4 linked regions of the Homo sapiens genome follow. The protein of the gene in region 3 purifies or fractionates together with the protein of the main gene of each other region. This does not show direct contact. Each region holds a gene or a part of one and is shown on either strand. Other genes may lie near its edges.

Region 1 (8,591 bases), on a different chromosome or scaffold from region 3:
CAGTGTAGACTAGGGTTTCTCAACCTCAGCACTACTGACATATTGACATTGGAGCTGCACAACTGTTGTGGGGGGCTATCCTACGCACTACAGGCTATTGAGCAGCATCCCTGGCCTCTACCCACTAGATACCAGTAACACTCCCCACAACAGGTTCTAACACCCAAAAAACGTCTCCAGTCATTGCTAAATGCTCCAGGGGCAGGAAGAGGCAATATTACCATAGGTTAAGAACCACTGAGTAGAGTCAGCCTTGGTGTTTATCCTTACCATTCAAAGAGTTCTGAATACAAAGTAACCAACCAGTCACAGAAACACTTTGCTGAGTAGATTCATGTATGACTCAGGGTAAAGTTATGACCTGAGTTTTCCAGTCTCCTTATAAAATATCATATTCTCCAAAGGGCAAGAGCAACACACCCAAAACAGAGGCATACCATTTTCATGCCTTGTTCTTGCTGGCAGTCTTTAAGGTTTCTAACTGACAAAGCCAGAGAAAACATCATCACAGGCAAGAGTAAGTATACTAAGACCTTAGCCAACTCTAGAACTGCTGGGTGTGGTTCCTTCTGGTGGTGGAGGGGTGGGTGCTTTTATATACCGTTTTGTCTTAAGGCAGTGATTGTGCCAGTAGATACACTGCAATACGCTTAAGGCTGTTTCAGTGAAAATACTATTTAAATCTAATTAACCAGAATACTGGGCAAATTTTATATTTGTCTGTTGTAGAAAATCTTTTCGCCATAGCACAGAAGGCTGAACAAAACCATATTTTTTGTTGTTGACTAAGGATTGTGTAATGCTTCATAGGTTTACAAAAATTATCTATGACTAAATGGTACTGAAGATTCAGAAAATCCAAGGAGAGGGCTGAATCTGAAAATGATGCCAGGCTATATCACAAGTGGAGGAAAAAAACCTTTTTAATGGAATGAGCTCAGTAACACTTTTGTATCTCTTTCCTAAGAATAAGAATGCCACCAAAGGTTTGAATTAGCTGTGTTCCTTTTTTTTTTTTTTTTTTTTTTTTGAGACAAGGTCTCACTCTGTTGCCTAGGCTGGAGTGCAGTGGCAAGAACAAGGCTCACTGCAGAAAAAAGAAAAAAAAAAAGGCTCACTGCAGCCAACTTCCTGGGCTCACTCCATCCTCTCACCTCAGCCTCCTGAGTAGCCAGAACTACAGGCCTGCAACACCACGTTGGCTAACTTTTTTTTAATTTTTTTTTGGGTGGGGGGGGGCGTCTCACCATGTTGGCCAGGCTGGTCTTGAACTCCTGACCTCAGGTGATCCACCTGCCTCAGCCTCCCAAAATGCTGGGATTACAGGAGTAAACCACAGCTCCCGGCCAAGTAAGGATTTCCTAATTAGCGCCTACTATACCAGGAAAGCCTGTCTTCTAATCTGTTAACATACTTCAGCTGTGAAATATATCTAAGGTGTTCTGACAATCGAAATACCACGCAACTGGGCCAGGCGCCGTGGCTCACACCTGCAATCCCAGCACTTTGGGAGGCCGAGCTAGGAGGATCACCTGAGGTCAGGAGTTCAAGATCAGCCTGGCAAACATGGTGAAACCCCGTCTCTACTAAAAATACAAAAATTACCCAGGCGCGGTGGAGGGCGCCTGTAATCCCAGCTACCTGGGAGGCTGCGGCAGGAGAATCGCTTGAACCTGGGAGGCGGAGGTTGCAGTGAGCAGAGATCGCGCCATTGCACTCCACCCTGGGCGAGAGAGCAAGACTCCTTCTCACCAGAAGAAAAAAAAAGAAAAGAAAAAGAAAATTAAGCTAGTACACAACACCACATCTATCCCGTTACTTCTATTTCATGAATTCTACTACAATGAGGTAGTAAACTGTAGCTAATACAATAATGGGCCGGGCACGATGGCTCACGCCTGTAATCCCAGTACTTGGGAGGCCGAGGAGAGGAGGGTGGTTCACCTGAGGTCAGGAGTTCGAGACCAGCCTGGCCAACGTGGTGAAACCCCGTTTCTACTAAAAATACAAAAAATTAGCTGGGCCTGGTGGCGGATGTCTATAATCCCAGCTACTCGGGAGGCTGACGCAGGAGAATCATTTGAACCCAGGAGGCGGAGGGTGCAGTGAGCCGAGACTGCGCCACTGTACTCCAGTTTAGGTAGCAAAAACGAAACTCCGTCTCAAAAAAAAATAGCCGCGCATGGTGGAGAGCGCCTGTAATCCCAGCTACCCGGGAGGATGAGGCAGAAGAATTGCTTGAACCCAGGAAGCGGAGGTTGCAATCAGCCGAGATCGCGCCATTGCACTCCAGCCTGGGTGACCAGAGCAAAACTCCGTCTCAAAAAATAATAATAAAACAATGTGCTGGACTACTGCAATACTGAGATCCTTCTCAGCCAAGTGTTTACAGGTGTTAGAGCGGCAACAGGAATTTCTGGAGTACAAGCTAATCTCTGTGGGAATGGAAAAAAAAAAGCACTAATTTGAATTTCAGTACCTATGTTGCAATGCTAAATTCTTGACAGGGATTAGTACTCCGTAGGTTATGCTTCTTAAATCTCCAAAAGTAAGCCAATATGTGAAATCGTACATTTTTGGTCCGTTATTCTAAGACTGACAAAACGTTCCATTGCTTCGTATTTGAATTTGAGAACTGAGACTCATTTAAAAATTCTTCACTGTTCTTTTCCTTTTTGCTCTTCGATTTCGCAAGTGAAACGGTCATTTCAACAGCACACACATTACACTAGAATAAAGCCAAGTAAAATGACAGACTAAATCAGATCCGTGAATACACGGTGACTCCTTATTTGGTTTTTAATACTTTCACTATGTTTCATGTCTTCGGGAAAGCAAAAGAACAACGTACTGTGCCAAAAGCACTAACTTACGAAAAACCAATTTAGACCAATTCTTTACAGCGTTAAGTATGGGTTGAAAACCAACTTTCCTAATACTTGTGGTCAGTGCCTCAAGGTCGTTAGGATAAAAATAAAGCTTCCAAGACACTTCGCAGCCTTCCAGCACTTCCAGAAAGGCCAAATAAACCAGCATTCACCTTCCCGCTCCATCCAGGCCCCGATTCTCCGACCAGAGAGGGCGCTGAGTGCCCGGGCACGGAGGGGCAGCGCCCTGGGGCGCCCGGCTCTGCCCAGGGCGGGGCTCGGCGGGGCCGAAGCTCCGGACGCCGCCCACGGGGACCACCGGCCCTTGGGCCGCCCAGGGGCAGCTGCAGCCCAGGGGAGGAGCTGGAGGAGCCCCCGGCGGCACCAGGGCCCGAGCCCTGACGGCGGCCGCCCCCGGCCGAAAAGTAAGGAAGGTGCCGCCCTCGCTGGACCAGCTGGGCCCGAAGAGGGGCCCCCCCACCACAAATTCGGAAACCGAGTGACCCCGGCGAGGGACGCGCGGTCCCAGCCCCGGGACGAGGAAGGGCGGCGGCGCGGGCGGGGGTTCTTTTCAGAACTACAGCAGGGAAGGCGGCGGGGGTGGCCGCGGGGCGATCCAGGGAAAATCGGCGCCTCACCTGCTCCTCTTGAGGCAGCTGCTGCCACTCGCTGAGGGGACAACATGGAGCCTCCGCCTTCAAAGCAGAAGCAGCAGGGGTGCAGAGGAGAGGGACGGGTGCGGGCGGGAACGAACCGGGCCCTGGAAGCGGGAAACGGGCGGAGCCTGGGCTCTAGAAAAAACTAGCCAGAAGGTGGGGCACGCGGAGCCGCGACGGAGCGAGCGCAGCGCGGTCTGCGTGGCCCAACGGACAGCCCGAGGCGTGGCGAGCGCAGGACGAGGCTAGGCGAGGCGGGGCGGGAAAGCGCACGCGGCAGAATCCCGCCACCGCCTGCCGCGTGTGCGCGAAGCGAGCCGCCGGGTACCTGTTGGCGGGGCGCTGAGTGCTACCGTCCTTTGGGAATTGTAGTCCCGCGCTCACTGGGTCCCGGCCAGCGGTCCTCATACTGCGCACTCATCTGGGGCGGGGCTTGGCGTGGTTCTCCGACGACTGAACTACAACTCCCAGCAGGCTGTGCGGGAAGGGGCGGGCTGGCTCGGGTCCTCCTGCGAGCTGCGGCCGGCGCCTAACGTGCAGACCAGGCCCCAGGCCGAGGCTTTATCCTGGAACCACCAGTGTGAGAGACAGCTTTGGTGTTTAACTAGGCCTGGGACCACAGGTGGGCAGAAGAGAGGCCTCAACCCTGGATGGCATGAACGTCACTGGGTCTTTAATGATTTTGACTTCATAAGGGCAGGTGGCCGTGACTTCATTACCACCTTTATTATCATCTCCCTATATTCCTGTCCCTGGCCATGGCTGATGCGCACCATCACCGCTCTGATAGCTAATGTAAGAAGTCCAGGCCGGGCGCCGTGCCTCACGCCTGTAATCCCAGCACTTTGGGAGGCCGAGGCGGGTGGATCACCTGAGGTCGTGGGCGTTCGAGACCAGCCTGACCAACATGGAGAATCCCCGTCTCTACTAAAAATACGAAATTAGCCAGGCGTAGTGGCGCACGCTTGTAATCCCAGCTAGTCCAGAGGCTGAACAGGAGAATCGCTTGAACCCAGGAGGCGGAGGTTGCAGTGAGCCGAGATCGCACCATTGCACACCAGCGTAGGCAACAGGAGCAAAACTCCATCAAAAAAAAAAAAAAAAAACTTGCACGCACATCCCAGCATTCTCTGCTCCTTTTCCCTGCATTACTTTTCTCCAAAAGACTTCATACCACTTGGCCAGGCGCGGTGGCTCACGCCTGTAATCCCAGCACTTTGGGAGGCTGAGGTGGTTGGATCACCTGAGGTCGGGAGTTCAAGACCAGCCAGGCTAACATGGTGAAACCCCATCTCTTCTAAAAATACAAAAAATTAACCAGGCGTGGTGGCAGGCGCCTGTAATCCCAGCTACTCGGGAGGCTGAGGCAGGAGAGGTTGCATTGAGTGGAGATGGCACCACTGCACTCCAGCCTGGGAGAAAGAGCAAGACTCCATCTCAAAAAAAAAAAAAAAAAAAAAGACTTCCTGCTACTATCTGACTTATGTTTTACCTTTCATTGTGTTTGTCTCTTCCCACTGAATGTAAGTTCCAAACAGATAGGAATTTTTGTCTGTTTTGTTTACTTGTATATCCCCAGTCCCTAAATACTGCTGGCAGATAATAGAGACTCAAATATCTATTGAATTAATGGATGAAGAAGATATATGTTACATCTAACACTGCTCACTCACTTTCTGGTTCCTTTAATATTAAATACCTAACTTTTACTATTGAACAAAATACCCTAGTTTATTTTAAGGGCTCCCCAGAGATTCACTGAAATCCAACTTCTCAGGAAGTGACCAGCAAATACTGATATATGTCTCAATATTACATCATCAAGGTATCAAGGTCAATGTTAGCACATCAGCATTGTAGCCCTTGTAGAAGCTTTTGGCATTTGGAACAAAACAGTACAAATTATAGGTGGACTTAAGGATTAGTCACAACTTAGAAAGCAACCCCTGTAAATGAGAAACATGTTTTGTGTTATTTCCTTCTCAAATATCCAGGGTCATCAAAACACTGGACATTGAAAGTGCCAAATATTGACAATACTGGTTACAGCCTGCCTTCAGCTATCTCACTCTGAATTGAGTTATGTGCTATGATCAGAGGTTGAGCTTCCCTTGAGGTTTTCCAGAAGTAGGTGACATGTAGACATATTTGAGTGGACAGACTACTGGCTTTGGGGTCAGACTTACCTGGCTCTGATGTTCACTAGCTATGCAACCTTGGGCGAGCTACTTAACCTCTCTGAATCCATTTCATCATCTGCAAAATGATTTAAAGACCCACACGGTTGTTCTAGGCTAAGTGAGCTGTGTGTTTGGAAATGATGACTGCGTGGTTAGTGATCAAAATTAGTAATCAGCATATTCATTCTGGAAAAGCAAAATAAAGTCATAAATATTCAAGATACTCAAGTGGTTTATGAAACACAAAAATAGCAAAATTGTTTTCTGCAATGGCATCCACCATGACTCAGGTTCCAAAGCTTTCCAAAAATAGGTCATTTGTTATATGCCAGGTACCGTGATAGGCCATAATGCTGCATAAGACACATTCCTATCCTCCAGAGACTCGCAGTCCTGTGGGATAGACAGCTGAGGAAATATCATTCACTGTGACTGTACTGGGACACAGTTCAGCTTTCTGCCCTCTATGTGCAGGATCATTATTTAAGCAACTTGGAAGGGACAAGTTGGAATACTACATCCCTGGGCATCATTTAAATTTCCATACCTTATTTTGCATGTGTGTAAAATGGGGTAATGATTTGGCATCTTCATTTGTAAAAAGAAAATAGCCAACCCCACTTGATAGGGTCTTATAAAGTTGAATATTAGGTCCTCAACATGGTAACATACTGAAAGCTTAAGACCTTGTCAGCTACTTCATTATTGGTATTTCAGCCAACAGCACAGCGGTCTAACTGGGAGGATCTCTTGAGCCCAGGAGTTCAAGACCAGTCTGGGGGCTGGGGGCAGTGGCTCACACCTGTAATCCCTACACTTTGGGAGGCCGAGGCAGGTGGATCACCTGAGGTCAGGAGTTGGAGACCAGCCTGGCCAACATGGTGAAATCCCGTCTGTACTAAAAATACAAAAACTTAGCCAAGAGTGGTGGCAGGCACCTGTAATCCCAGCTACTCCAGAGGCTGAGGCAGGAGAATCTCTTGAACCCGGGAGGCAGTGGTTGCAGCGAGCTGAGATCCTGCCATTGCATCCAGCCTGGGCAATAAGAGCAAAATTCTGTCACAAACAAACAAACAAACAAAACGGTCTGGGCAACATAGGGAGATCCCATGTCTACCAAAAATAAACAAATAAATTAGCCAGGTATGGTGGGGTACCTGTGGTCCCAGCTACTTGGGAGGCTGAGGTGGGAGGATTGCTTGAGCCTAGGAGGTAGAGGATGCAGTGAGCCATAATTGTAGCACTGCATTACAGCCTGAGCAACAGAGCAAACCCTACCTCCAAAAAAAGAAAGAAAGAAAGAAAGAAAGTGGGGGCGGGGGACAGCGCACAGTGGCTCATGCCTGTAATCCCAGCACTTTGGGAGTCTGAAGCATATGGATCACTTAAGGTCACAAGTTCAAGACCAGCCTGGCCAACACAGTGAAACACTGTCTCTACTAAAAATACAAAAATTAGCCAGGCATGGTGGTGTATGCTTGTAATCCCAGCAACCTGGGAGGCCGAGGCAGGAGTATGGCTTGAACCCAGGAGGCAGAGGTTGCAGTGAGCCAAGATCATGCCACCACTGCATTCCAGCCTGGGTGACAGAGCGACTCCACTAAAAAAAAAAAAAAAAAGGCAGTGGGGATGAGGATACAGATTTGCTATATTCACCTTTGCTTATGTTTGCCACAGGAATATCCTAATAGTGGCCAGGCTCGGTGGCTCACGCCTGTAATCCCAGCATTTTGGGAGGCCGAGGCAGGCAGATCACGAGGTCAGGAGATCGAGACCATCCTGGCTAACACGGTGAAACCCCGTCTCTACTAAAAATACAAAAAATTAGCTGGGCGTGGTGGCGGGTGCCTGTAGTCCCAGCTACTTGGGAGGCTGAGGCAGGAGAATGGCGTGAACCCAGGAGGCAGAGCTTGCAGTGAGCTGAGATCGCAGCATTGCACTCCAGCCTGGGCGACACAGCAAGACTCCATTTCAAAAAAAAAAAAAAGAGAAAATCCTAATAGTAGCTACCTATATGTGTGTAGAGGAGTGGAGGGAGTTAGTGATAAAACTTTACAATATATATATTCCTGAATATTTGTGTACGTATATATGAATGATCTGTGACTACATATCAAATTTTTTTTTGAGATAGAGTTTCACTCTGTCGCCCAGGCTGGAGTGCAGTGGCGCAATCTTGGCTCACTGCAACTTTTGCTTCCCAGATTGAAGCGAGTCTCCTGCCTCAGCCTTCTGAGTAGCTGGGACAACAGGCATGTGCCACCAGGCTCGGCTAATTTTTTTGTATTTTTAGTAGAGACAGGGTTTCACGATGTTAGGCAGGCTGTTCTCCAACTCCTGACCTCAGGCAGTCTGGCTACCTCGGCCTCCCAAAGTGCTGGGATTACAGGTGTGAGCCACTGCGCCCGCCCTTCAAATGTCTTAATTTAAAATATATAATTTTTAAAAATTTAAAAATAAAATAAAATATATAATTTTTTCTAAAAGTCAAGAAAATATAGGGTAATTAGATGGCTTAGAAGTTAAACTGGGAAATTATCTGTATAGGCCGAGCACAGTGGCTCAAGCCTGTAATCCCAGCACTTTGGGAGGCTGAGGTGGGCCAATCACCAGAGGTCAGGAGTTCAAGAACAGCCTGGCCAACATGGTGAAACCCCATCTCTAGTAAAAATATAAAAATTAGCTGGGCTTGGTAGCGTGCACCTGTAATCCTAGCCAGTGGGGAGGCTGATGCAGGAGAATTGCTTGAACTAAGGAGGCGGAGGTTGCAGTGAGCTGAGATCATGCCATTGCCCTCCAGTGTGGGCGACAAGAGCAAAACTCCGTCTCGAAAATAAAGAAATTATCTGTATAAGATACCAGTCCTGGCCAGGAGTGGTGGCTCATGC
Region 2 (8,023 bases), on a different chromosome or scaffold from region 3:
GTACCCTCACGCTCAGTCTCTGAACCTCCCCTACTGAGTAGCTGCTCTGGCCTCAAAGTACTGTGGAGACTCAGAGTGAGCCTAACGCCCCTGGCTTCGGGCACTGACAGGTCTTCAGGAAGAGCTGGACGTGTGACACCAGTAAGGCCATAGAGAGGGAAAAGCAGTGCCCCGGCAGCTGAGCAAGAGCTCAGGGGAGCAGGCACATGGGCAGGCCTTGCAGAGTCATTCAGAGGCATCCCCCCACCCCGCTCGCTCCAGCCACGTTACCGAGCATGAGGAGCAGCTCTTCCGAGCAGAGTGCTGGGCAACCGCAGCCCCACTCAAGACAGATGTCCTGCCTCAGTGCCCCCAGGCACAACCTCACCTCCCCACCTGCTCTCCATTACAGGGAGCACCAGGTTGTGCTCTGTCTACTGGAGCCTCTTCTCGGCTTGGAAAGCCTGTCCTGACTCCTCCACCCACAGAAACCTGTCTCCCAAATCCTTGCCTGGCCTGGCCCTCAGACAAGCATCCACCTGCAATGCTGAGCGGGGTGGCCCCAGAGCAGCAGAGCCAAGAAGGAGCAGGGGAGGGAGTACTCACAGCAATGGAGACGGCGCTGATGACAGCTCCCAGGTATCCCTGGATGAACTTGGATGCAGGTGAAGGCTGGAAAACAGAGGCAGAATTTCAGGCCTGCTGGGTGCCCAAAGCTCCCATACTTCCCCTTGTAAGCTGTCCCAGCCAGCAAGAAGCATCCTGCCCACCAGCCTGGAAAGTGGGTAGAAGGAAGAGGCCCCTCAGGACTCAAAGGGATCAGGCCACCCTCAGCTCAGTTCCCAATGCAGAAATATAAATCACCAGTATCCAGGGAGATACTGAAGGGCCCACTTCACTCCTGCCCTGTTCTAGAAAGGTCACTGGCAGACAGTGCTGGGTGGAGGTGGAGAACAGCAAGGCTAACATGGACCATTGAAGGCTGGGGCAAGCAGTCTTCAGTTTAGAGGCTAAATGTTTCAAGGGGGCCATTTGGCATCTGGAGCGCTTTCTAGGTGGAAATGCCAGTGTCAAGGCTCTCACAGGCCTTGCCAGCCCATGGAACAGCTGGGCTCCCATGTCAACAGATGATAGCTGCCCAATATCTCTAGAGAATAATATACCCCAAGTTCCAACACAGACAATTAAGAAAAAGCTAAGGAACTTGCCCTGTGCTACAACTGCAGGTCTAGAAGTGTCTGGTTTAAGATAAAGGGAGTCATCCAAGCAGAGATGGCCATATGTGAAGCCTATGAGAGAGACTTGGGGTGGAGGTTTAGATGTCAGGGGGCAGCCACAGCATATCAGGCCTCTCAATTCCTATGGCCCAGGCCAGCTCCTATTCCCCTCCTCTCCCCCAAGGTGAGCAAATGTTAGGACTCTCCTCTACCCCAAACTGACAGGCCCCCAAAGGGGACTTAGATGCATCCTGCCTTCTTTGCCTTTGAATTGAAGTTGGGGAGAGGTGGCCTTGCCAGCAAAGCAGGGGCCCAGCAGCCCTTCCTGGACAACAGAAGGGTGACTGGGCCTCCACCACAAGCTCTCCAAGGAGTGCAGGGGCTCTGGGGGGGAGTTACCAGCCCTGGACCCTCCCCACTCAGGAGCAGCCCTTCAGCTTGTGGCCAGCAGTCGGGACCTGGGAGCGCTAAGGCAGCTTCCAGAAATTTTGGAGGAAGCTTTATGGGAATTTTGCCCCCAAGTAGCTGATACCATCATGATCCAAAACCCAAATGTAAGAGCTACCCAAGAAGAATCTGAAAGCCAGCCGAACTCATCCCTTGCACTGCTCCCATTTAATGGGCCTTCTTCACTTCATGTAAACAGCCCCTCCCCAGAGGGCTCCTGGCCCAGAAACTGCAGCTGACCTCAGCTGAGTCATGTCTGAGTCGGCCACCCACCTGAAGGGCTGGCATTTTAAATAAGATATCTAGAGGAGGGCCATGCTTAACCAAGAGGCAGCCACTGATGGTGGCATGTCACGCTGTAGGGAGGATGACTGGGCCTCCCTAGCCTGAACCCCACCACTGGGGAGAGGGCAGTGATGCTCACCTTGGTCGCATTGCGGTTTGCATAGTTGACACAGGCATTGTGGCTCTGGTTCAGCCACTGAAAGGCAATGATGAGAGAAGTCAGGGAAGGAGTGGTCACCTCCCTGGAAGCCAGGCCTGGACCCCAGGAGGCCACACATCCCCAGAAAGGCACAGCATGCGGTCTCCAGCTCACATGGTGCCGCCCATGCTGCCGGTCAGCATGACTGACCGTCCTGGTTTGCCCAGGGCTGTGCTGGTGTTAGCACTGGAAGCCCTGCCTCTCGGGAAGTCTCTCGGTTCCTGAATGGGGTCCTGCGCACCCCAGTAGTCCACCTGATCCTGAGACAGTCACCTCTCTTGGAATGATGGCATTCACTGCCCCTGCAGACCCCACTGCCTTTGTCACACCATCTTTATTATATTACCTGCTGGACAAAAGTTGGCCTAGAATGACTGACAGCCCTACAATTCTTTCAAAAATCTCCCAGTCCAGTATCCTGCACCTCCAGTTCCCAGACACAGAGGCCGGCAGGAGTTTAGTTCAGGGAAGACTGACATTTTCTCCTAGAAGACAGACAGGTTTTCCTTCCTGCCCGTCTTTCTCTGCACACACAAACACAGAGATATCCTCAGTTTTCATGGCATCACAACCCAGACTGTCTCCAAGAGCAGGGACCAGGGTCTGTGATGCACTTCACAACCTCAGGTTAGGGGTGGATTTAGCTTCCTCAGCAGATGTGGGGGAGGCTGATGTCAAAATGAGGCTATGGGCCTCAGGGTCACTGGCCTTGGGATGAGCAGCCAAGGGGCAGAGTGGGGGCCACCCCACTGACAAGCCAGCATGTTCCAGGCAGGGGCACGCAGCCCTCATGACCTCTGTCCAAAGGTTAGAGTGACACATGGTGGATTGAGACATGCTGGGCTGCTGGAGACCTGCTCAGCAGGGCCAAAGTCCTGGTTTTCCTTCAGTGGCTTCTGGGCTAGGGGTGGTGTTGGGGTGGACTGACCCTACACGGGGTCTGGACGGGGCAGGAGACACCACAGCAGGGAGTTCTTAACCAGCACCTGTGTGGGCCCTTCCTTCAGGAGCCCTGTTTGCTGCGAGACTGTTACCTGCCAGAAGACAGTGGATGCCAGTGTCTGGTTGGGCAAGAGAAGACCGACTACCTATGAGCAAGAGAGAAGAAATGCTGAAAAAGGCAGAAGAAACATCCTATGCTTTTGCAAAGAAAAAATACGCTACCACAAATGAGTGAGCTGGATCTGTACAAACTGATGTGGTATGCCGTGTACATACAAACTGAGGTTCATTGAGGGAGAGGCTGTGTGATGGGAAAAAACCAAGTTGCAGAATTATATTACAGCATAATCTTATTTATTTAAAGAAAAATCATTTTATATATAACGATATACACAAACACATGCATACACACATTATCTTCAAGCATGAAAAAACCTGTAGTGTGGATGTCTCTGGAGGTTGGGTTGCAGATTACTTTTGCACAATCTTAAATATTTCTGTATTCTTTTAAACAACAGACATGTATTATTTCCACAATTAGGGGGGCAATAAAAACAAGCAAACAAAAGGAATACCTTCGTTTCCACTCAGGTTACCTGACTGCTCACCCTAGCCTTCCCGTAGGATTTTTGCGAGGATTAAACAAAAATCATTTCAAAGGCCTTAAGTGCTTTGTAAATACAAGTTGGGGGAATTTGTATCTGTTATCTGTGAATTTCCATGAAGCAAAAACCTATACCAGGTTTAAGCAACTGAATGAAACATAGATTTCTAATATTTGTTGAATGAGTGAAGAAAGGAATGAATGAAGAAATGAACAAATATACACATATACACATATGGCTAGGTATGGGAACATGTAGATCCATTATTCCCAAAGCCCAAATATCACCTAAGACCTAGACTTGCTGACCGTGTTTTTGGTTTAAGTCAAGATGAATGGTCTGATTTTGACACTGGCCAAGCCTTGGACTTCAGGGATCCATGTGCATCTCTCCAGTTTACCTTCTGAGTGTTTGTGTGCAAAGTAACATCTACCAAGTCCCACTGCATATGGGAAAAATGTGCACAACCATCCACATATTGACTTATTTATTATTCCTGTAGATAAAATGGCTCTTTGGCAAGAATTTCTGTAAGGAACAAGTATAAACACTCAATAATATGCAGTAAATCAAATTCTAGACATCCCCAGCAGCATTAGTAAATCATGTTTTAAACATTAAAATGTTTTAAAACAGCTAACACACACACACACAATCTATATTTATTGGCTCATATCAGTTTGAATAAAATTATATAATATAAAGCTATTCCATAGCTCCAACGAGGAATTATGAGATTTTTCCCCCAGAATGAGATCCCAACTTGATTTTTTTTTTCTTTGCAGTGGCAGCTTAGGGAATTAGAGTGAGAATCAGGGGAACCTGGGTCTTAGATTCAGCTCCATCCCCATGTGATCTCTGGCAGAAAATGATCCCCTTTGGGGCACTAACTTTCTTAAACTATGAAAGTGAAGGGGCTGACCTCAGTTTAAAATTCTACTTCCAAATTCTGGGTAGTAGGTGTCAAGTCAACAGAGACGGTCTTTTCTGTAATGGGATCCCATCTGCTAAGGAGTATCCCAGGAAACTGAGGACCTCCTCGTAGTTGGGGCCCCCAGTTAGAAGCCAGACCAGAGGGAGGGAGCTGAGCCTAGCGGGGGTGGGGATGGGACAGGGGGGTGGGTGAAGAGTACATGTGCTCCTATGTGTACACGTATGCATGCCTGACTGCCTTCTACCACCGGAGGAAGTTAATAAGGCTGTTCACTGTTTGGAGCCCAGCACGTCATCCCCTGATCTGGAGTCTACTGAACACGGTGTCTTATGGACTACACTGTCTTCTCCTCTGAATCCCCACTTACCCCTCGAACTGTACTTGGACCACCAGGAACATCGTAAGATACAGCCCAATAGCACTCACTGCATTTACCAGACAACTGCTGTCCAGGACACTGCCCGTGACACCACAGGGTTCCCTTTATAATCCTCTTGGGGGAAATATTTTCCAGTCTCAGGGTCAGGAACTGTGCCTCTGAATAACTGGTGTGCATGTGCCTTGCAGACACTGAGCCATTCAACTGAGTCTCTTTGCACCGTCAGAAGCTCAGGCCAGCTCTCCACAGCCCCATCTGCCAAGTGTACAGACCCACACTGCATGGATTCTGTGCCCAAACCTCACTTCTGGCTTCATTTTATCTTCCCTTCCCTAACCTTCCCTTTGTCTCATTTTCATCTTCACTTGATTTATCTTTAGTGGCAAGCATTTTTAAAAGTGACATCAAGTCTTTTCCAGAACAAACCAAACTAGTATTTGGGCTATGTACCACACACATACACACTGCCCATGGCTCTGTGACCAGCAAGCTTTTTACTTTGTTAGACAATCCCCACTTTGCATCCCAACCTCCTACCCTAACATGGGTCTGGAGTCCATGCTGGCACCTCTGACTGCTATGAGTCTCCTCATTCTTTCTTAAAGAGATGGATTGACTGATTTGATTTTGCCACGCATTTCACTTATCATAATCCTCATACTAACCCTGGGGATCAAAGCAGAGATTACTTTTGATATTTTGCAAACGGGACAACTGAGGCTTAGAGAAATTCAGTAATCTGTCCATAGCTTCATAGCAAGCTAGAGAATCAGGTCTCCTGGTTCCTGGCTTGGGGGCCCGGACTCTGATTTTAGGGTACTCCTTCTCCAGCTCATCCCCTTGAGCGCAGAGAGAGGGGAGATCCAATCAGCACTCTGCATCCATTTATGAGGAGCTGCTTCTACGTACCAAGTTCCTTGCTGCTCCCAATGGAGAAAGCCAGAGGAGAGGAATGAGTGCGCGCGCACACACACACACACACACACACACACACACACACACTCCTTAACCACAATAAAAACAAAAACCAGACAAGAAAATGGAGGATGACATCCTTTATAACACCGAGGCTTGAAAATGACAAGATGGTTTAATGAGGTATTTGGTTATGTGTAAAGTTGATAAATTTTAACATCCAAACAGGAGTTTAGGAAGGGAGGGGTGAGTGTGTCCCGGCTATCTAACGAAGGCGGAGGTAGGAGTGAGCCGAGGGGGCGCCGACACAGGAGCAGGGACAGCCGAGACAGCAGAGAGACTGGTCTGACTGCAGAGGAGGTCTGGGAGACCAGAGGGAGTGTGGAGAGGGTGAGGTTAGAAGACAGGAACACCGAGCTGCATCGGCCAAATGGAGCCTTAGGGGGCCATGTGAGGCTGAGGCAGGGAAGCAGGGATCCTGCCCTCCAGGTCCTTACAGTCAGGCGGGGACCAAAAGCACGAGGATGCCAGCCCAATTCCCTATTAGGCAAAACGCAGCACCATCTGCACAATCCCAGGAGCAAGAGCAGATATTTTATAACTTCCTTTTTTCTTTTTAAGTCTAAATTAAAAATAAATGTTCCCTTCAGCTCTCAGATGTATATCTCTGGTGCAACCTGCCCACATTCCCTCCCGCTGCCCTTTCCAGAACATGGCAGGGGAAAGGAAGAAAGAGATGGATAGAGAGAGGGAGCCAGTCCACCCAGCTTCAATGCCAGTGGATTGCACCTCTTCCAAGAGGGAAACGATTCAGGCGTGGCCACGCAGACGGGTGGAGAGCGCCCAGAATGTGGCTGGTACCAAGGAAAGTGGAAGGAGAGGGAAACAGGAGCCAACAGCTATGATTTCTAGCCCAGCCTCCACCCTATCGCGCTGCAGGACCTTGGCCAAATCACACATCCTATCTCTGCTCCCATTTATAGTTCATAACATGGCTGAAGTCCCCTCTGCCGCTCCAGCCCCCTGGCAGCTGTGCTCTCTGCACATCCGTCTGTACCTTTGCTGCTCCCCTTCATTTTGGGTGTCCTACCATGGACCTAGTGATTAACGCTCAGGCTCTGGTTGTCAAATGCTGGTGCCAGCATTTACCAGCTATGTGACCACAGGCAAGTCACTGGAGCTCTTTGTGCCTCTGTTTCTTCACCTGTTAAGTGAAGGACAATCCCAGTACCTCTCAGGATGGTTATGAGAGGAAGTAAGGTGTGGAGGAAATTCGCCTCAGCATGCAGCCTGCAGCAAGCGCTCCCTGGATGCCGGTTGCCAGTGCCATTCTTCTCCTCCCATGTAGTTCTTTCCTGGCCTTTGCTGGTTTCTTTCTCTGAGCTCCATAGTCAGCATTACACCACTGAACATCGTCTCATCTCCATCTCGGGAACACAAGTCTTATCCCTCAGAGAACAGAGCTCTGGAAGGCAAAATTGGGGCTTTTCCCTCTTCTTCTGATGCCCCCGCCATGGCATTCAGCACAAAGCTGGGCCCACACCCCAGGGTGGAATAACACTCCTAATTATTAGATAATTATTGGCCAGGGAAAGATCTCTGCTGGACTGGGACAATGCACTCCTGACTCCTTTTATTAAGTCCTAATTGCAGGGGGTGGGGGTGGGAGATTGAGTCTTTGGTCCAGATTATTTCCCACTCCCTGCACCCATACCCTTGCCACGGCCTCATCACAGAAGGAATTTATTTCCTCACTTTTTGGCTCTGCTTGGTCATCTAACTTGCTCTGACTGACAGCACGTGGGAGGACGTGGCAGCGTGTCAGTTCTGAGCCCTGGCTCAGAGGCCTCATGCCTTCCTGCTTGCCCTGCTGAGCATCTGAGGTTGCCACGAGAAGACATCCCTGACAAATCCCTGGTCCAAGGAGGAGGACAGACAGGAGAGACAGGAGGGTACAGTCCATCCCAGGTCAGGTCACCCTCAGTTGACCATAGTGAGATGCAGAACTGCCTCAGTCAAGCTTTGTCTAGACCGGGCAAACCCCAGCCAACCGCAGATCCCTAAGAATGAATGCTTACAGGCACGGTGGCTCACGCCTGCAATCCCAGCACTTTGGGAAGC
Region 3 (7,753 bases):
AGGACTACACAGAGGTGGAAAATCTGCTTACCACGTTGCTCAGTCATTGATTTGATTTTATATATATATATACACACACACACACACACACACACACATATACATATATATATATTTTTTTGAGACATAGTCTTGCTCTGTCACTCAGGCTGGAATGCAGTGGCGTGATCTCACTGCAACCTCTGCCTCCCAGGTTCAAGCGATTCTCCTGCCTCAGCCTCCCGAGTACCTGGGACTACAGGCGCCCGCCACCACACCCGGCTAATTTTTGTATTTTTAGTAGAGATGGGGTTTCACCATGTTGGCCAGTCTGGTCTTGAACTCTTGACCTCGAGTGATCTGCCCGCCTCAGCCTCCCGAAGTGCTGGGATTACAGGCATGAGACGCCACACCCGTCCAGTCATCGATTTTAAAGTTGTAATGGCCAGTTTTAAGTCCAAATCTAAAGGTGTCCAATCCCAACAGCGGGCACAGAGGACCAGGTCTCCAAGGGGTGGAGAGAAGCGGGATCAGAAGGTGTGTATGAGGCCGGGCGCAGTGGCTCACGCCTATAATCCCAGCACTTTGGGAAGCTGAGGCAGGCAGATCACTTGAGGTCAGGAGTTCGAGATCAGCCTGACCGACATGGTGAAACCCCGTCTCTACTAAAAATACAAAAGTCAGCCGGGAATGGTGGCACATGCCTGTAATCCCAGCTCCTCCAGAGGCTGAGGAAGGAGAATCTGGGAGGCAGAGGTTTCAGTGAGCCAAGATCGCACCACTGCACTCCAGTCTGGGCGACAGAGCGAGACTCTGCCTTAAAAAAAAAAAAAAAAAAAAAAAAAAAAAAAAAGGTGTATGAGCTCCTGTGGCTGCTGTCACAAACCACTATAGGCCTGGTGGCATCAAACAACAGAAATTTATTCTCTGACAGTTCTAGCAGCCAGAAGTCTGACATCAAGGTGTCAGTAGGGCCATGTTCCCTCTAAAGGCTCTAAGAAATAATGCATCTCATGCCCCCCTCCTGATTTCTGGTTGTTGCTGGCAATCCTTGGGTTCTCCGACTCGTAGATGCATTGATCCAACCACTGCCTCTGTCTTCACGTGGCATCTTCCCCATGTGTTTCTCTGCATCTCTTCTCTACTTCATATGAGGAACCAGTCACTGGATTCATCCATCCTCCTCCAGTAATACCTCTTTTAATTTAACCAGTTACACCTGCAAAGACCCTATTTCCAAGTAAGCTCATGTTCTGAGGTTCTGGGTAGACATAAATTTTGGGGGGACACAACCCAATTCGAGAGCCTCCATTGTCAGGTGAGGAGGGGACGCTAGCATGCTCAGGATGATGGGAGCCATGGCAGGTGTGTGGGCCAAGGTTGGAGGCCATGTGGGGTCTGAATCATCCCCTCCCCAATCCCAGGAAGAAAATAAGAAAGAGGTGGGGCGCGGTGGCTCACCCCTGTAATCCCAGCCCTTTGGGAGGCCAAGGCAGGAGGATCACCTGAGATCAGGAGTTTGAGACCAGCCTGGCCAACATGGCAAAACCCCGTCTCTACAAAAATACAAAATTACAAAAATTACCTGGGCGTGGTGGCTTTCTATTATAGATTGAGAAAAACGGTAGGCTGGGCATGGTAGCTTACGCCTGTAACCCAGCACTTTGGGAGGCCGAGGCAGGTGGATCACTTGAGGTCAGGAGTTCGAGACCAGCCTGACCAACATGGTGAAACCCTGTCTCTACTAAAAATACAAAAAGTTGGCTGGGCATGGTGGTGGGCACCTACAATCCCAGCTACTCAAGAGGCTGAGGCAGGAGAATCACTTGAGCCTGGGAGGCAGAGGTTGCAGTGAGCCGAGATCACACCACTGCACTCCAGCCTGGGTGACAGAGCATGACCCTGTCTCAAAAAAAAAAAAAAAAAAAAAAGAGAGAGAGAAAAACCCAGCCTTATTTGGGGGGAGCCGTCAGGGCTGCAGCGTCTAATACTGGGGACGGTTGAAGCAAGGGGCTGGATTTAAAAAATGACCTCCCGGAGGCAGGGCCTCCCCATAGGGTAGGGTATTGTAGTCCTGAACTCATTTGCATACAAGGCAATCCAGCCAATCAGAGCCCAAGGCCATGGGCCCGTTGTCTGGGTTTGGCCCATCCTGAGGTTCCATCCCAGGGTGTCAGTCCCGCGGCTGGCCCTGTCCTCAGAGGTTTGTCTCCTGCTGGTCTCGACCACCATCATGTCCAACACAGGGGGTCCAAGAGCCAGCCCCCTCCAGCTCCTTCTGCCCCAAGAAAAACAGACGATCCTCATTGGTGGGCAGGAAGCCAGGGGGCTTCTTGTTTCCAGTGGGGAGTTCTTCAGGACCCTGGGGAAAAGTGGGAAAAAGAGACCCCATCAGAGACCCTGTCCCCACCCTGTTCCGTGTCAGCTCATCTCCCAGATGGGCTACTGATGACCTGGCGGGACGGGGCGTGCACAGAATTGCATACTATCCCCTTGCTCAGTGCACGGGCCAGTCCTGCCCGCTCTGCCTCCAAAATTTCCATGCGCTTCTCTTCCCCACTCACATGTCACCTACAGCCCAGGCCATCAACGCTTTCTCAGATGCCTGCTATAGTTCCTCCCTCCTTTCTCTGCTTCTCTGCCTGTTCACCTTCAAGAAAATAAATATTTCTGGCCGGGCACGGTGGCTCACCCCTGTAATCCTAGCACTTTGGGAGGCCAAGGTGGGCAGATCACTTGAGCCCAGGAGTTTAAGACCAGCCTGGCCAATATGGCAAAACCCCATCTCTACCAAAAATAAAAAAATTAACCAGACTCGGTGGTGCATGCCTATAATCCCAGCTACTCAGGAGGTTGAAAGATGGGAGAATTTCTCGGACCATGGAGGTTGGGGCTGCAGTGAGCCATGGTCATGCCACTACACTCCAGCCTGGGCAATAGAGTGAGTCCCTATCTCAAAAAAAGGAAAAAAAAAAAAGACAAAAAAGAAAAAAAACACACAAATAAAACAAAGACAACAAAAAAGAAAAATAAAATAATAAAGAACAAAAAAAGAGAGAGAAAGAAAAAAAAGAAAAGAAGAGAAAGGAAAAGAAAAGAGGAAAGAAAGAAAAGATAAACACTTCTCTAGGGCAGCTGGAGGGAGCTTTAAACACCTTCAGGCAAACCCCTCCCCTCCCAATCCCCTTCTCAGTCAAAGCTGTTCCTGTCTGTGGCTGGTTCCTCTTCTCCTAACTCAGGGTCAATCAATGTCACCTCTCCCAAGAGGCCACCCCTGACTTCCCTGGCTAAAGTTGCTCCCCATCACAGCATCCGGTTTTATTATCCTTTGAATATTTATCATGCTGAGACCCTACACGTTTTTCTTTTTAGCTTGCTCTCTCTCTCTCTCTCTCTCTCTCTCTCTCTCTCTCTCTCTCTCTGTCTTTTCTTTCTTTCTGACAGTGTCTGGCTGTTGTTGCCCAGGCTGGAGTGCAATGGCACAATCTCTGCTCTCTGCAACCTCCACCTCCTGAGTTCAATCGATTCTCCTGCCTCAGCCTTCCGAATAGCTGGAATTATAGGCATGCACCACCACACCCGGCTAATTTTTTGTATTTTTAGTAGAGATGGGGTTTCACCATGTTGGCCAGGGTGGTCTCGAACTCCTGACCTCAGGTGATGCACCTGCCTAAGTCTCCCAAAGTGCTGGGATTACAGGGGTGAGCCATCACGCCTGGCTCTTTCCTTTCCTTCCTTCTTTTCCCTCCCTCCCTCCCTTCCTGCTTTCCTATCTTTTTGACGAAGTCTTGCTCTGTCACCCAGGCTGGAATGCAGTGGCGCGATCTCAGCTCACTACAACCTCTACCTCCCGGGTTCAATTGTTCAATTCTTCTGCCTCATTCCACTGAGTAGCTGGGATTACAGGCACACGCCACCATGCCCGGCTAATTTTTGTATTTTTAGTAGAGACAGGGTTTTGCCATGTTCGACAGGCTGGTCTTGAACTCCTGGCCTCAAGCGATCCACCTCAACCTCCCAAAGTGCTGGGATTACAGGCGTGAGCTACCGTGCCCGGCCTGACAGCATCTGGTTGTATTATCTTTTGAATGCTTATCACATACTGAGACAGACCCTACATGTTTCTCTTTTTAGTTTTCACCTGCCCCTGCTAGATGAGGGTGGGGTGGGGGTCTTAGACCATAGCCCAGAGCAGGACTGGGTACACAGCAGGTGCTCAATAAATGAGAGAATGGAACAGGGATTCCAAAACAGGGGTAGGCATGGGATCAGGTCCCCCAGGGACAGCATTTTCCAAACTCTGGGAATTCACAAAGCAACCACGCGGTTTTAGCCAAAATCGGTTTACCATCTGTTGTGTTTCTTATGTAAGATTTTTTCCCCAAGTTGACTCACTTTTGAATTAAGTAATTTTATTTTAAGAAGAGACTTTACATCAATACCCTAACAGCACACCAGTTTCACCTGCCAAAGATTGGAAGTCACTGTAAAAACAGATAACGACAAAAAGGAATAGTATTCAACTTTGTTCAGTCCTTATGAAGGGAGATAACAAAAACTTGAAGATGAGGCTGGGCTCGGTGGCTCATGCCTGTCATCCCAGCACTTTGGGGGTCTAAGGTGGGTGGATCATTTGAGGTCAGGAGTTCGAGACCAGCCTGGGCAACATGGTGAAACCCCATCTCTACTAAAAACATAAAAATTAGCTGGGTGCGGTGGCATGCGCCTGTAGTAGCAACTACTCAGGAGGCTGAGGCAGGAGAATCGCTTGAACTCGGGATGTGGAGGTTGCAGTGAGCCGAGATTGCACCACTGCACTCCAGCCTGGGCAACAGAGCGAGACTCTGTCTCAAAAAACAAACAAACAAAAAGGAATAGTATTAAACTCTGTTCAGTCCTTGTGAAGGGAGATAAAAACTGTTGAGGATGAATCAGCTCCCAATAGAGTCTTTTGACTGGAGATAATGAGCGATGGAGAAAGGTGCTGATATACCATGTCCCTCCCCTGAGCTGTGGTCACGTCCTAAAGTCACTTGGCTGCCTCTAGATCTGGGAACCCAGCCTAAGACTGACCTTGACCAAGTTGTCATCCAGGATGGCCACTTCTTCCTTGGGGGCCACTGATGCTGTCTGCCGTGCGAGGTCCCACCACAACAATCCCGGGGCCAGGGTGCTGCGCTTGGTGGGGCCTGAGAGGCGGGGAGAAATGGAGAAATCCAGGCATTCAGTGAAGGGGTCATGGGGGTTGGAGACCAGGTCCTGGGAAGGAGAAAGGAGATCCCTGGTCTATGAAGTCTAACAGGCTCCAGTCCCACTAAGGGACCCTGGCAAGCCTCTGAGCCTCAGTTTCCTCATCTACACAGTGAAGTTGTAATAAAACATCAGTGAGGCCAGGTATGGTGGCTCATAATTGCACTTTGGGAGTCTAAGGCAATAGGATTGCTTAGAGTTGCCCAGTAGTTGGAGACCAGCCTAGGCAACATAGCAAGAACCCATCTCTACAAAATATTAAAAAATTAGCCAGGCATGGTGGTGTGTGCCTCTAGTCTCAGCTACTTGGGAGGCTGAGGCAGGAGGATTGCTTGAGCCCAAGAGGTCGAGGCTGCAGTGAGCCGTCATTGTGCCACTGCACTCCAGCTTGGTGACAGAGTGAGACCCTGTTTCTAAAACAAAACAAAACAAAACAAAACAAAAACATCATTGGAGGTTGGGCACGGTGGCTCACGCCTGTAGTCCCAGCACTTTGGAAGACCAAGGCAGGGGATCACTTGACGTCAGGAGTTCGAGACTAGTCTGGCCAACATGGCGAAACCCCATTTCTACTAAAAATACAAAAATTAGCCAGGCGTGGGGGTGGGCGCTTGTAATCCCAGCTACTCGGGAGGCTGAGGTAAGAGAATTGCTTGAACCCGGGAGTCAGAGGTTGCAGTGAGCCAACATCGCACCATTGCACTCCAGCCTGGGCGACCAGAGTGAAACTCCATCTCAAAAAAACAAAACAAAACAAAACAAAGACATTAATGGATGGCTGGGAGGGTCCAGCACACGGTTCCATTCACTGCTGCATCCCCAGTGCCTAAAATAGCGTCCAGCACAGAGGAGGACTCGATAAAGGCCTGATGACTGTGAAGTCTGAGACTCAAGAAGTGTGAGCAGGTACTGTTATCACTACTGACTTTCCCCTCTTTGTCTCCTTCTACTTTTCCGTGGAATTTAGAATTCCCTAACAAGTGCGGAGTCACCGGCAGCTTTAGAAGATATTTCAGCACCAGGGATAGCGCCGCCCGCCCCAACCCATATCCTCTACTGAGGACTTAATCTTGTTGGGGAGAGGAGTTGCAGGCAATGCCTCCGTTTCTGCCTCTGCAAAATAGGGCAAGCTCTGAGAGGTGCAGGGTTGTCAAGAAAGCAACATAGCTTTAAAGGGTGTAAATGTGAGCCGGGCACGTTGGCGCGCACCTGTAGTCTCAGCTACTCGGGAGGATGAGGTGGGAGGATTGCTTTCAGCTCAGGAGTTCAAGGTTGCAGTGAGCCATGATTGTGCCACTGCACTCCAGTCTGGGTAACAGTGAGACCTGTCTCTTTTCTTTCTCTCTCTCTTTCTCTCCTTCTCTCTCTCTCTCTTTCTCTTTCCTTCCTTCCTTCCTTCCTTCCTTCCTTCTTTCTTTCTTTCTTTTAGATGGAGTCTCACTCTCTTGCCCAGGCTGGAGTGCAGTGACGCAATCTTGGCTCACTGCAACCTCCATCTCCCAGGATCAAGCGATTCCCTTACCTCAGCCTCCCAAGTAGCTGGCATTACAGGCGCCTGCCACCATGCCCAGCTAATTTTTTTGTATTTTTAGTAGAGACGGGGTTTCACCATGTTGGCCGGGCTGGTCTTGAACTCCTGACCTCAGGTGATCCACCCGCCTCGGCCTCCCAAAGTGCTGGGATAACAGGCATGAGCCACTACGCCCAGTCGACCCCGTCCCTTTAAAAGAAACTATATATATATACACTTTCTTTTATGTATATATATAGTCATAATTTTTATATATATTCATAATTTCTTTTATGTATATATACACATAAAAGTGTGTATGTATGTGTATATATACACACACACTTCTTTTTTCCTCACAAACTTTTTTTTTCCTTTTAAAAAAATAGGTACAGCCCAGGTGCAGTGGCTCACACCTATAATCCCAGAACTTTGCGAGGCCGAGGTGGGCGGATCACTTGAGCCCAGGAGTTCGAGACACATGGCGAAACTCCGTCTCTACTAAAAATGCAAAATTAGCCAAGCATGGCGGCACACACTTGTAATCCCAGCTACTCGGGAGGCTGTGACATGAGAATCGCTTGAATCTGGGAGGTGGAGGTTGCAATGAACTGAGATCACACCACTGCACTCCAGCCTGGGTGACAGAGTGAGACTCTATCTCAAAAATGATGATGATGATGATGATGATGATGATAATAATAATAATAATAATAATAATAATAAGGTACAAATGTGTACAGCACACAGTGGCAGTTTGGCCAATGGGAGCGTCCTTTCTCCCCTCCCTGCTGGGTGGAGCCTTGAGGCAGAGAGATGAATGGGATGACCTCTGAGGCCACATGCTCTGTTTACCTACCTGTCAGGCAGCTGATGAGGGCTCCGCACAGCACAGTGGTCAGCGTGCCCAGGGCACCGTAATAGAGATAGGAGATGGCATAGAAGCTGTCAGCTAAGGCGGGTCGGCTGGCGTCCATTCCTGAGCTGCAGGTTGGGAGAGACAGACTTGAACCT
Region 4 (6,559 bases), on a different chromosome or scaffold from region 3:
AGGTGACCCACCCGCCTTGGCCTCCCAAAGTGCTGAGATTCCGTGAGCCACCGCAGTCTGATGTGCTTTTTAAAAATGACAACTCCAATTTTGTAGGCTGCATTTAAAAATACAGTAAGAATAAGGCTGGGCAAGGTGGCTCATGCCTGTAATCCCAATAATTTGGGAGACAAAGGTAGGAGGATCGCTTGAGGTCAGGAGTTCAAGACCAGCCTGGACAACATAGTGAGACCCCATCTCTACAAAATAACAATTCACTGGGTGTGTTGGTACCCGCCTGTGATTTCCAGCTACTTAGGAGGCTGAGGCAGGAAGACTGCTTGAGCCCAGGAGTTCAAGGCTGCAGTGAGCTGTGGTTGTGCCACTGTACTCCAGCCTAGGAACACTGACTCTTTAAAATAAAAATTTAAAAAGATGAGCATTTAACTATTGTATTGGCAGGTGGCTGAGTCCATCACATACCATTTATATAATTAAATGTTCACATGACACCAGAATCTGTTTTGCAACAAAAAACAAAAATAAGACATGGTCCCTGGTCTGAAGGCTTCCAATCTGAAAGGTAATAAGACACAGGCAATGAAACTATAGGGCTATAAAACTATATTTAAAAAAATTTTTGGCCGGGCGCAGTGGCTCATGCCTGTAATCCCAGCACTTTGGGAGGCCGAGGCGGGCGGATCACGAGGTCAGGAGATCGAGACCATCCTGGCTAACACCGTGAAACCCCATCTCTACTAAAAATACAAAACATTAGCCGGGCGTGGTGGCAGGTGCCTGTAGTCCCAGCTACTCGGGAAGCTGAGGCAGGAGAATGGCGTGAACCCAGGAGGCAGAGTTTGCAGTGAGCCGAGATTGCCACTGCACTGCAGCCTGGGCAACAGTGCAAGACTGTCTCAAAAAAAAAAAATTTATTTTTGCATGAAAAATTTCCAGGACTTTGGTGATAAGCAGCGAAATCAATGCCTTAAGTAGATTTTGAAATGGTATATTAAAAAATGGTACTCATTTGGATACTGTAAGAAAATACTGATTAGGTTTCTGGGATATAATGGACAAATGATTCTCAACTCATGGCAAGAAGATTCCTCCCTGGGTATCAGAATAATTTGAGGTGGAACAAAGAGGCTATGAAGTTTCAGAACAAGGTGGTATTTTCTGCTCTTGCTTTAATTTCCTTTATTGTAAAAATTCAGTTAACATCAAAGAGAGTGTCTTTTTTTTTTTTTAAGGAAGAATGCTTTAAAAAGAGATAAGAGCAGTGCCAACATGAAAACCAAAAAAAAAAAAAAAAACAGTGCAACGGGGTGCCAAAAAAAAGGGGGAAAACATCTGAAATAAGGGGGAAGAGTCAAAGGTAAAAATCACAAAGCAATGGAATAATTAAAAAGATAACAAAAGGTTAACTAGGCAAGTTAGACCAGGGGAAGACTTAATATGAAATTTGTCCTAGGATAAATTATTAAAATATTTAAAGATATAATCTAAAGCTCCTACTGAAATAGAAGATAAATTTAAAACAATTTTGATTAAAAAGAGAAAATATACTGTAAAATATTTATTTAATAAAAATAATTTTATAATCTATACAGAATTGAATAAAAAGTACAACAAATTATTTTCACTTATTTACAAAACTGCATACAGTACAACTTGCACATTGAGTTCAGCATTCTATAAATATGGCCACATACCAAGATGTGAACATATTCTTGTCTTATATAAGAAAAGGCTCAGGTTGTATGCCACAAACTTTGAATTAAATTCCAGGGAAATATTGCTTTGGTAACATGAACAATTTGTACCACATTCCATTAAAAAAAGATTTAATAAAATCCCTCAAACAGCACTTTTCTACTTGTTTCGGAGTACACAATTCCCAAATTAGCACAAACAAAACAAAGCAAAAAAAGAAAAACAGACAGAATGTAAAATGAAGGTTGCTACTTTTATGATATCACTTCCCTTTCCCTTCCTTAGCTAGTGTTCTTTTCCTTTCCCTTAATAGTAAAGGATGGTGAATAGAAAATGACCTATTCTTATCCCCATCCATTTGCTTCTAGGATTCCTGCTTAAACCAAATGAGTATGTCGACTTTGCAATCTTGACACACTATTATTAACACTGTTCAGCTGTGTCATTCTAAAAAAGTTAATACCCCAGTTAAAAGCACCTATCTAGATTCTTTTCAAGATAAGGCAACAAAGTCAGCTTTAAAATAGTTTTCATGTCTGACATATACTAGCAGCCCCTTGGTAGACTGATTTCAGAATTAAATGCATATAGAACATTTTTTCAAGTAACTTGGTAATGAAATCACTAGCAATTTTAAGCAAATATTCAAGATGATCTACCTTTAGAAACAAAGGCAGATTTAAGGTAAAAAAATGCAGGAATCACATCTATCCTAGTTCCTGTCCCATTGAAATAATTGAAAAGAGGCTCAGTTTATGAAAAAGGCCTTGGACTAATGCAATTCCTATTGACATCTTTACTTGGATAAGAAAAACAAATTAATATAAAAACTATAAATAGGGATGAAATTATTAAAAAAAGATTTTTCATTTTATTTTGGAAATAAAAGGGAATACAAATACAAATGGCCTAGTTACATCTTTAGCCTATATATGAACTTTTAATCTTGGAATTAATAGTCCTTCATATTGAAGATTTAAAGACAAGCAAGCGTACCTTAAGCTTTCTTAAGTCTCTTCATTTAGCAGGCTTCAAAACTTGCCTTATTTTCTAACTAAATGAGCTTCTCTGGGAAGCATATGAATAATGCAAAAACGTACTTCTAAACAAATTTTACAGAAATAAATAATCGTCACAATGGGAACCAAGAACATTCATATGATGAATTTTTTTAAAATAACTTAAAATTAGAAATGATACGTACACCTTAAAATACAGAACACTAAACCAGAACAAATATTGCCAGTGATAGAATAACTATGTAGAAAGACCAATGTACATGAGTAACACAGAAATAAGAATTAAATTGAATAGAGGCAGATGCTGTTAGAACATATTTCCATCCATCATGACTTGCAACATTTTGTGGCCTCTGTGGAGCCCTGGTCCCACCAGGCCAAGCATCTGGCTAAGTAGATACAGACATATGTGACCTATAAAACACCAAACTCACTTGCTAATGAAGTATACAACACCATGTGCTGCTTTGATTGCTCTTGACTGGTTTTTAAAATCAAGTTCACTTTTGAATCAGAAAAAAAGTCATCCTTAAATTAGCTCTCATAAATAATCCATGAAATAAACTTTACTTCTGGCTCCTCTGAATAGTATCATGTTATTCCCGGAACACAAGGTATTAGTCAAGTGGCTGCTGTGAAGTCAAGAAATGCACATTCATAAATATATGTCTACGCTTTAAAAAATCAAACACATCCAGGCAGTTGCTGTGCAGAGTTCTTGCTATAAGAAGAAGCCCTTCAGCAGTATATTATGAAGTGGTTACTTGAGAACTTGATTGTGGATCTTCCAGCTTTCTACATTTCTTCATAACACTGACTGCACCACTGGCCAGGAAAACCACAGCGATGAGTGCAAAATAACTGGCATAGATCAAAAACTAGAAGGGGGAAAAGCAGTTTATTGAATTATCAATGACAAGAGGATTACTCTATAATAAAGTATATTCAGAATTTGTCCATAAAGCCTCAAAAAATATTGCATACTTACACCACGTGCCAGACCCTGAAGACACAAAGCAGCATCACAGCACGGTGGTACTAAATAAAGCCTGACTGCCTGAGTGTGAATCCTGACTTCATCCCTTACAAGCTGCGTGAACTTGATTGAGATACTTCATCTCTGAGCCCTTCTTCACTTACAAAATGGAATTCATAGTAGTTCTCACTTTACAGCGATGTTGGTACCCATCAGTGAGATCATAAATGCTTATTAGCACAATGCTAATGCTGTTAGTATTACTTTTATTGTTGTTGCTGTTATTGTTATAATTCAGTCCTGGTCTCTGCCTTCAAGCTGATAGGTGGGTACAAATAGGCCAAATTCTGAAGATCAAGAACTTCTCTATTTTTCCCCAGAAGAGGGCAGCGGCAGGTCAACTATATTCCATTACAGGATTACTTAATGTAAGAATTCTTCCCTAAGACAATTTTTTTTTTTTAAGTTCTGGGGTACATGTGCAGAATGTGCAGATTTGTTATATAGGTATACGTGTGCCATGGTGGTTTGCTGCACCTATCAACCCATCATCTAGGTTTTAAGCCCTGCATACATTAGGTATTTGTCCTAATGCTCTCCCTTCCCTTGCCTCCCACCCCCCAACAGGCCCCAATGTGTGTTGTTCCCCTCCCTGTGTCCATGTGTTCTCATTGTCCAACACCGACTTATGAGTGAGAACATGCAGTGTTTGGTTTTCTGTTCCTGTGTTAGTTTGCGGCGGATGATGCCCTAAGCGAAATTTTAATGTGACTATATGGTTTATTAACATCATCATCATCATCATCTTCTTAAAATAACATACTAAATACTTACAAACTGGTTCAAAAGTACAATGAGAGTATGGCCTTAAATCACTGAGCCAGTTTCTTTCAATGTTGGCTACACTTCTGCAGGAAGCCATTAATCAATCATGGCAGTTAGGGTTTCAGCACCACCCATAAAATCCTATTATTCCACGTGTTTAAATCCACCATTTCTATAAGAATCTGCTGACAAATTTCCACTTCCAATGACAGCCATGTTTCCCTCAACTGTAATAGTCCTGGGAACTCTCCCTTATACAGGGAGGATGGCAAGCACTTAAGTTTCTCTCCTACTTTCCATCCTGAAATAAGTTTTGGGGTTAGATGTTGGTTTAACTCTAAGCTCTGGAACACTACTAGTGATGGTATGGACAAGTCACTTAACATCTCTCAGACTCATCTTCTTCATGTCTAATACAGCAACCCTACAAATCCTATATAAAGCACTTGACACGTAGAGGCACTCAATGCACATTGTCTATTATTACTATTTCTCTCTTAGATCGCTTCAGTAAAAACAAAGTTAATTACGGCTAATATGTTGGGAAGAAATCATTTGGGTTGGGATGGGGGTGGGAGTAAATACTTCTTGATTCATTCAGTTGCCCATTTTACCAAAGTACAAAACAAGATATACTTAAAACTCACAATGCATGAAGGCATATACAACTATACAATTCCTGAACGTAAAAAGTATTCACATTGTTGTTGGGTGTTGGTGCAAGTTTCTCAATAGTCATAAGTTACAAATCATAATGTTGTTCATCAGCAGCAAGGCATTACCGTGGTATTTGGGTGAGGGGTGTTTTAAATAAAGAAGGGAGGAGACTTAAAGAGTTGTGAGATGAAGCAGGGAATCTCAAACATGGGATACAGTATTCCAAGCATAGATTTAAGTATAGAGGGAAATAATGGATGAGGAAGCAGAAGGTCTTGGTCTGTAAGGAATCAATATTACCTCTCAGCTGAAACAGCCCCATTGGGCTGATGAGTTACACTCGGGAATGTTCTAAGACCTGACAATCCCAACACCCTCCCAGGAGAAAAGAACTAAGGATAGGGGAGAAGATGTTGAATGAAGGAAGGAGGGTATGCTTTTACTTTACATCTGTTCCCTATTGTTTGGATTTGTTTTCATTAAGCATACATATACTTCTGTCACCCTGATCAAGTCACACATACTACCTTCGATGCCAAAGGAGAGATCTTACCTGAGTGGTAATTTCTAATCCAAGGCCACTGGCATCTACCACAATTAGAGTGAGCAGCGTCTGCAGTGCCAGGGCAATGAAGGTATTTACACCAAATACTAGGGCATAGCGTTCCATGCTGAGGTTTGCAGCAATTTGAAAACTTAAAAAAAAATAAAAGAGTGAATAAATAAGAATTACTTCTGGAGTACTTATAATATTTATTCTAAATAAAAGTAAACATTTATCTTTAAACATGAAGAGTCCTTCTTTCTACTGTCAATTGCCTTTCCAACCAAATGAAAACATTCTGCAACTAAATGATATAAATCTCATGCAAACATCTGAAAACAGTAGGAACATACAAACATGGGAATAAACAAAACTTGCCTAAATGCTTCCTCAGGAGAAAAACTGATAATGCACATATAATACAATGCTTCCTCCCATTTGCCTCATTTAACTAGAAACTTGAATATTTTGGTTTGTAAAGAAACCAAAAAATTTATCCTGTTACAATTTTTCCTAAGGCTTCTATGAGCCAAAATACATACGTTGCTATCGTGATGAGTAACATGTAGATGATTCTGAAGACAACATAGGATGCATAGCACACCCAAATGTTACCCACAGTGTCCATGATATACACTGCAGCAGCAATCAGGAGAGAAAAGAGAGATAATGTCATTTCTCCCCAAGTTGACCAGGATATTTTTATATAACCAACTGCAAACACAGCAACAGCACCTACAGAACAAACAAAAAAAATCCAATTATTTTGCTACACAAATGCTGTTGCAATAAATTAAAAACTCAGCTTAGATTATTAAATTTTAAAATCTGCAAACTTATAAA

Evidence for each region.
Region 1: the proteins of SLC5A5 (region 3) and ATL3 purify together in Homo sapiens (affinity purification with mass spectrometry; 2 studies listed by BioGRID and IntAct, with this or other methods). This does not show direct contact.
Region 2: the proteins of SLC5A5 (region 3) and SFXN5 purify together in Homo sapiens (affinity purification with mass spectrometry; 2 studies listed by BioGRID and IntAct, with this or other methods). This does not show direct contact.
Region 4: the proteins of SLC5A5 (region 3) and SLC19A2 purify together in Homo sapiens (affinity purification with mass spectrometry; 2 studies listed by BioGRID and IntAct, with this or other methods). This does not show direct contact.

The regions. Positions count from the first base shown.
Region 1 is NC_000011.10:63,667,785-63,676,375, forward strand, and holds the start of ATL3 (atlastin-3), read right to left. Parts: upstream 3,552-8,591; coding exon 3,506-3,551; intron 1-3,505. UniProt on the Homo sapiens protein: Atlastin-3 (ATL3) is a membrane-anchored GTPase that mediates the GTP-dependent fusion of endoplasmic reticulum (ER) membranes, maintaining the continuous ER network. It facilitates the formation of three-way junctions where ER tubules intersect.
Region 2 is NC_000002.12:72,998,364-73,006,386, forward strand, and holds part of SFXN5 (sideroflexin-5), read right to left. Parts: intron 7,368-8,023; exon of another isoform or gene 6,028-7,367; intron 3,216-6,027; coding exon 3,162-3,215; intron 2,125-3,161; coding exon 2,068-2,124; intron 652-2,067; coding exon 586-651; intron 1-585. UniProt on the Homo sapiens protein: Mitochondrial amino-acid transporter. Transports citrate. Does not act as a serine transporter: not able to mediate transport of serine into mitochondria.
Region 3 is NC_000019.10:17,888,301-17,896,053, reverse strand, and holds the end of SLC5A5 (sodium/iodide cotransporter), read right to left. Parts: intron 7,724-7,753; coding exon 7,599-7,723; intron 5,169-7,598; coding exon 5,053-5,168; intron 2,342-5,052; coding exon 2,177-2,341; 3' UTR 880-2,176; downstream 1-879. UniProt on the Homo sapiens protein: Sodium:iodide symporter that mediates the transport of iodide into the thyroid gland. Can also mediate the transport of chlorate, thiocynate, nitrate and selenocynate.
Region 4 is NC_000001.11:169,462,386-169,468,944, forward strand, and holds the end of SLC19A2 (thiamine transporter 1), read right to left. Parts: intron 6,452-6,559; coding exon 6,259-6,451; intron 5,868-6,258; coding exon 5,726-5,867; intron 3,593-5,725; coding exon 3,464-3,592; 3' UTR 1,524-3,463; downstream 1-1,523. UniProt on the Homo sapiens protein: High-affinity transporter for the intake of thiamine. Mediates H(+)-dependent pyridoxine transport.